2 separate regions of the Homo sapiens genome follow, and region 1 is linked to region 2. Evidence: fine-mapped expression QTL. A gene starts in region 2. The other region holds a variant in brackets. All regions are shown on one strand. Distances are between the middles of the regions.

Region 1 (3,027 bases), 120 kb after region 2:
TCTAGTTCAGTTGTGTGTCCAGGTACAGTGTATTTGGTGAGAAGTTTATTGTTTCCACCACAAATGTGAAGACCAAATGAATCTACTTCCTAAAATTATTTTGAATTGTTCCTCTTGTCTTTCTTCCCATAGCTATTTTCTTCATTCAGGCCACCATCACCTCCTGTTTAGATTTCAGCCATGGTTGATTCTGATGCCTCCTGGATTACCTACCTTCCAGTACATTCCCCAGGCCAGGCTATTGCAAGGTGGTTTTCTTACATTGGTTAGGCACCCTCCTTCAGGAAAGTCTTACTCCATTTTCTTTCTTCTCATTTCACCTTACATAACTGCCAATATTTGCTATAAAAAAATAAAATAAATTTATTGATTGCTTTCTGTGTGCTAGGGACTATCTCAACTGTTTTGGATATATACTACCATTTGATTCCAAACTCCTGCTCTGGAATCTTATGACGTAGATTTTATTACTGCCATTCCCATTTCACAAAGGTGAAACATGAGTTCAGAGAGGTTGAGTAATTTTCCCAAGCTCACAGGGCTATTAGGTGGAAATAGGATTCCAGCTCAGATGGTCTGACTTTAGCGAATCAGTTTTGAAACACCACTTTTAACTCTAGCCCTTGTTATATAGATATTCTTGATGTTAAAGATGTCTCATCCATACTTTTTGTTCTCAAATTTGATGAGTGCCCATCCCATAATACATACTTAATAAGGAGTTGTTTAGTGAATTAATGAATATGATAATAAATGAATAAAAATTACTAATTCCTTTTTATTCAATTTTAATTGATCTCATCTTAGAGCCTACAAGAATCTTTAAAATTTGGTTCATTTTCACAAGAATGTGTTCCATTGTCATGAACTCTACCATTTTTCTCAACTTGTTGTTCCTGAAACCTATGACAGAGAGAGTTCAAATAAAGCAGATTTTCTCAACAGTAGCACTATTCACATTTTGTACCAGATAATTATTTGTTGTGGGCAACTGCCCTGTGCATTGTAGGATGTTTAATGGCATCTCTAGCCTCTTCTCACCATCTGCCAGGAGCACTCCTTCCCTGGTGTAACATTAACAAAATGTCTCCAAAACCTGCCAGATGTTCCCTGCAGCCAAAATCAACCTGGTTGAGAACCATCAGGATAAAGAACACACAAGGCTTGTTGTAATTCATCTTAACCACCAAGGGAAAGCACAATTCAAAATGCATCTTCTGATAGCAGCTATAGCTAAAGAGCAGAATTTTGTGATGGGAAAACTGTTCCATGCCCACCTTGCCTGTGATGGGAAAGCTGTCCCACTCAACCTTGCATTACCTTTGGTTCAGGCCCTCAGTATTTTTTGCCAGTACAGTGTGCTCAGCACAGGGCTTGACACATCACAGGCAGATACGCAACAGTGAATCCCCTGTGCACTTCGATTAACCCCTCTGACCTCAATCTTGTACCTCTGAGCCACCCTCTGCTACCAACAATTTTGGAAATGCAAACCGAATTATGTCATCACTAATCTGTTCCCTGTAGCCATGCTTTAGAGGTCTCCCATTGTTCCAACACTAAATTCCAACTCCCTTGTAGCATATAAGAAGTTCATCATTACTTACCTTCCTTTTACCT[G/C]TCCAGCTTCATTTCTTGGCATGACCTAATCAGACTTACTGGTTCCTCAATAAACAGGTCAGATCATCTGATGCAGCTTAGAACTCACTTCTCCCAGAAAAACTCCCTTGATTATCAATTAGCACTGCCACTCCTGGTGCCCTCACAGCAGCCTCTAGGTAATCCTTTCAGAGCACTTATCCCCTATATAGCATAGCGATCAAAAGCAAAGACCGTGGAGGCAGACTCTCTGGGATTGCATCCCAACTATGTTACTTACTAGCTGCATGACCTCAGCCAAGTGACTTAACCTATCTGTGCCTAAGTTTCCTGATCAGAAAAATGGGATAATAATAGTATCTATTTCATACAGTTGTTCTGAAGATAATGTGAGTTAATCTATGTAAAGCACTAAGAAAGATGCAAGGCATAGAATAAACTCTAGGAAAGCATTACCTATATGTGCATTATTATTTCTTTCTTTCTCCTATAATACATTGTGAACTTTTCACACACAAAGTTTTGTCTTTTACCTCAGTACTCTTGACATTGAGCCAAGGACCTGGCACACAGTAGAATTTTGAGAAACTTTTGTAGAATTAATGCAGTGAGCAGACTTGGGTTGTAGAAATGTACTCTGCGCTTCAAATCACAGTTTTGAACTAAAGGTAACTATTATTCGTTGTTCACCATGCTTTCATTTCTCTCTAGGATATTTAGAAAGAAAAAGAGAATCTGCCATTCCTTTTCTTCTCTCTTCAACCTCAGTACCTCCAAATCTTGGCTGCATGGAAGTATCTTTGGTGACATCAACTCTTCTCCAAGTGAAGACAACTGGTTGAAGGGGACCAGGAGGTTGGACACAGACCATTGCAATGGAAATGGTGAGTTTGAGTCCTCCTTTCCATAGTAAAATTTTATCTCCAAGTGGGCAGTGGTAACCCTGTGGTCCTCAACCAATGTCAGTTCCAGGGATGACAGTCATTTTGATGGAGAGATGGGCCACATTTTTAAAATTCACTTAAAGTTCTCTCTATATTACATGTGTGATCAAAACACATATGTGTCTATGTCATGCAAAATAGCCTAATGTAAATGTGTAAATTATTAAGTTGATAATGCTGGGAAAATATTTGCACATCTCCACTGTATTTTTTCTGTAAGGGATATTGGTGGAGAAAGGATACTAGAGTCAGATTTAGAAGACCTGCATTGGAAAAAATGTACTGGAGTCAGGGTTCAAGTCCCAGTATGAGTACACTTGGATAGTACTTAACTTTGCTGAGTTTCAATTTCTTCATAAAACCATATATATATACATATATATGTATATATATGTATATATATATGTATATATATATGTATATATATATGTATATGTATATGTATATATATATGTATATATATGTGTGTGTATATATATATGTA
Region 2 (2,500 bases):
CAGGAAGAGGGGGGAAGGCACAAGATGCTTTTTATGGCATCTTGGACCTTGAGAGTTCGCTGCTGACATAAGCCTTACTGGAAGCTGCCATCCTCTGCACACTGGGGCACGTAGTCTGCTTGCTTCAGAAAGGCCGTTTCCCTCTGCAGCTCACAGGGACGAAGGGGCTGGGCATCCACCTGGTACTCTAGGAAAAGAAAAGTGGTTCATCAAAGAAGAGTGTGGACTGGGCTGCCAGGACAGAGACGGGCTCTCATAAGCACAGATGCTTTTCCAGGGTCATCATCATTACCTATGACAGCCTATTTTAAAATTTGGCAGCTAAGCACACTTTCTTACAAGTATGACATTAGCTCATTTAATGTGCAACATTCTCCTAAGAGGTGACAGGCAATATATCCTTGTCACTCATGAGGCACCAAGTCTCAGGCAGCGAAAGTCGTCTGCCCAAAGTCACGTAACTGGCAAGTGAAGGATCCCAAAATCAACGCTGGGACTACACGTTCCCCGCCCGCCCCCACCCTGCCGCAATTCCCATGAGGCTATTTGGAGTAAGTTAGAGAACCGTAAGGAAGTTCTTCTTGAATCTATCAAGCCATGCCCTGCAGATGTAACATGTTCCAGATAAACATTGAAATACCAATTAATTAATAATGTACATGACTTATTTTTCCATTGAGAACTCTTGTAACACATAGGGTCCTACCCAGAAATCACAACCGCATCATGAGGTGTGTGTTATTTGTTTACTTTTTAAATGAAAAAAAAAAAAAAAAAACAGAAGCTTGGCACTTTGCCCGAAGTCATATGGGTAAGTGGCTGAGCCAAAGACAGAACTTAGGGCTATTTCACTTCATAGGTAGATTTCTTTTTCTACTGCTTCTAAAATACCTGTTATGGATGACACAGACTTTGGAATAGCTAAGGGGATAAAAACCCAAGGTCAATGCCAAAAGTTTGCCAAAATGGTGGGGTGAGGAGGACCTAGAATTGAATTAGGAAGATCAACCACATTTCCCATTTCTGCTCCATCAATCACTAGCTCTGTGACCTCAAGTAATTCAGTTCGGCTCTCTAAATCTGCCTCTTCATCTGAAAAAAAAAAAGCAAATCACTGACATGTGGGAATTTGTGAAGATTAAATTAGATCGCACCTGTTCGAAGGCCCAGGGCAGAGCCTGGCTGACACTGGAGCTCCCTCCCCACCGCCTGGCTCCATGGCCTCAGAACTTACCGAAGATATTGGCCGACACCCAGCAGATGGAGGCCAGCAGGGTGAAGATCTCCAGGACCAGGGCCATTTTCCTGGCCCTTCCTGGGAGGAAGGAGGAGAAACCACTGCTTGCCCTAGGTCCCCTGGCCAGGGAGCTTTTATAGAGCTGCCGTTGGCACTTTCCTTCCCACCCCCAGGTCCTCAGTGAGGCAGTGCCCCATCCTGTTTTCTCTGCTGGTCAAAAGGAGCTCCCTCCACCTGTGTCTACTCCTCCTGAGGGCACTCGTGTGGCCAGTGGAGCATGAGGATCTTGTCTAAACTGTGGGGGAACAGAACGGGGTGGGGTGACTTCAAAATCCTTTTTTATGGGTAAAGACCAAAGCTCTGTATCTTTGGAGGGAACAGGCTCAAGCCCACAGTGAGGGAAAAGCAATCCTTTGTTCTTTCCTTCCCCACCCTACCCTTTCTCCTTCTCCTTCCTCCTTCCTTCTTTCCTTTCTTCCTTTCTTTCTTCTTTCCTTCCTTTCTCCCTTCTATCCTTCTTTCCTTTCATTCTTCCTTCTTTCTTTCCTTCCTTCCCTCTTTCTTTTCTTTCTTCCTTCTTTCCTTCCTTCCTTCTTTTCTTTCTTCTATTCTTTCTCTAACAACCTCTTAGAGCTCCACAGTAGCAGGCACCTAATCTAGACAATGAGGATATGGCAGAGAACAAAACAGGCAAAATCGTGCCCTCATTAATATAGACTGTGAAAACTTTGGTGAGGGAAGCAAAATACACACACACTCATATTCATATTTCTATTACTTTCCTCTCTTTCCTAGGACCTCAGACTTTGTCAACCAAAAGATAGCAGGAACTGTGTATTCCACAGAAAGCCTGTATGTCCATTTGGTTTCTCCTGGCAAACATGGCTTCCTTCCTTCAGTCCTGTTCCTGTGAGACCTGGAAAAACTCACCTCATCTCCCTGAGCCCCAGCCTCCTTCTCTGGAAAGCAAAGTTAAAAGGAGAATAATAATATGTCCCTATTTGTTAAGGTAGTTGTAAGAGAATAGACATTGAAGAGCACATGCTTATTAGACACTAGCAGTTATTATTATTATTATTGATTTTCTTATTTTGCAAAAGCATCATGCCAGGGAATGGCAAGTATTCAGAAGACCAATCCAGCCAGGTAAGGAGCTAGTGACAGATAGGGTCAGGAACTGGCAGGTAATGAGGGCAGGTTGCTGAGCCTGGCACCTGAGGAGAGATGGAGGGACCTGTGAGAATCTGGAGGATATGGTCCCGG

Which allele goes with the higher level. Alleles are on the strand shown, and positions count from the first base shown. SD is a standard deviation of normalised expression in the study named.
For the expression in Th2 cells of the gene that starts at base 1,344 in region 2, G is the low allele of the variant in region 1 and C is the other (large effect, 1.0 SD a copy in Schmiedel 2018).

Evidence for each region. PIP is the estimated chance that this variant, and not a neighbour inherited with it, causes the effect. A credible set is the group of variants that fine-mapping cannot tell apart.
Region 1: its variant is the best candidate, but not a certain one, in a credible set for the expression of TG in Th2 cells (Schmiedel 2018, PIP 0.87).

Annotation. Positions count from the first base shown.
Region 1 is chr8:132,746,398-132,749,424 of GRCh38, reverse strand. It overlaps TMEM71 (transmembrane protein 71), which reads left to right. Exons shown (of 10, transcript NM_001382403.1): 5 at 2,311-2,483. Among named protein-coding and RNA genes, the nearest start is that of TMEM71, 13 kb to the left of the region's middle. The variant G/C (reference allele first, on the strand shown) is at 1,621.
Region 2 is chr8:132,865,802-132,868,301 of GRCh38, reverse strand. TG (thyroglobulin) reads right to left here and starts at 1,344. Exons shown (of 48, transcript NM_003235.5): 1 at 1,235-1,344; 2 at 79-187. The coding sequence starts at 1,301.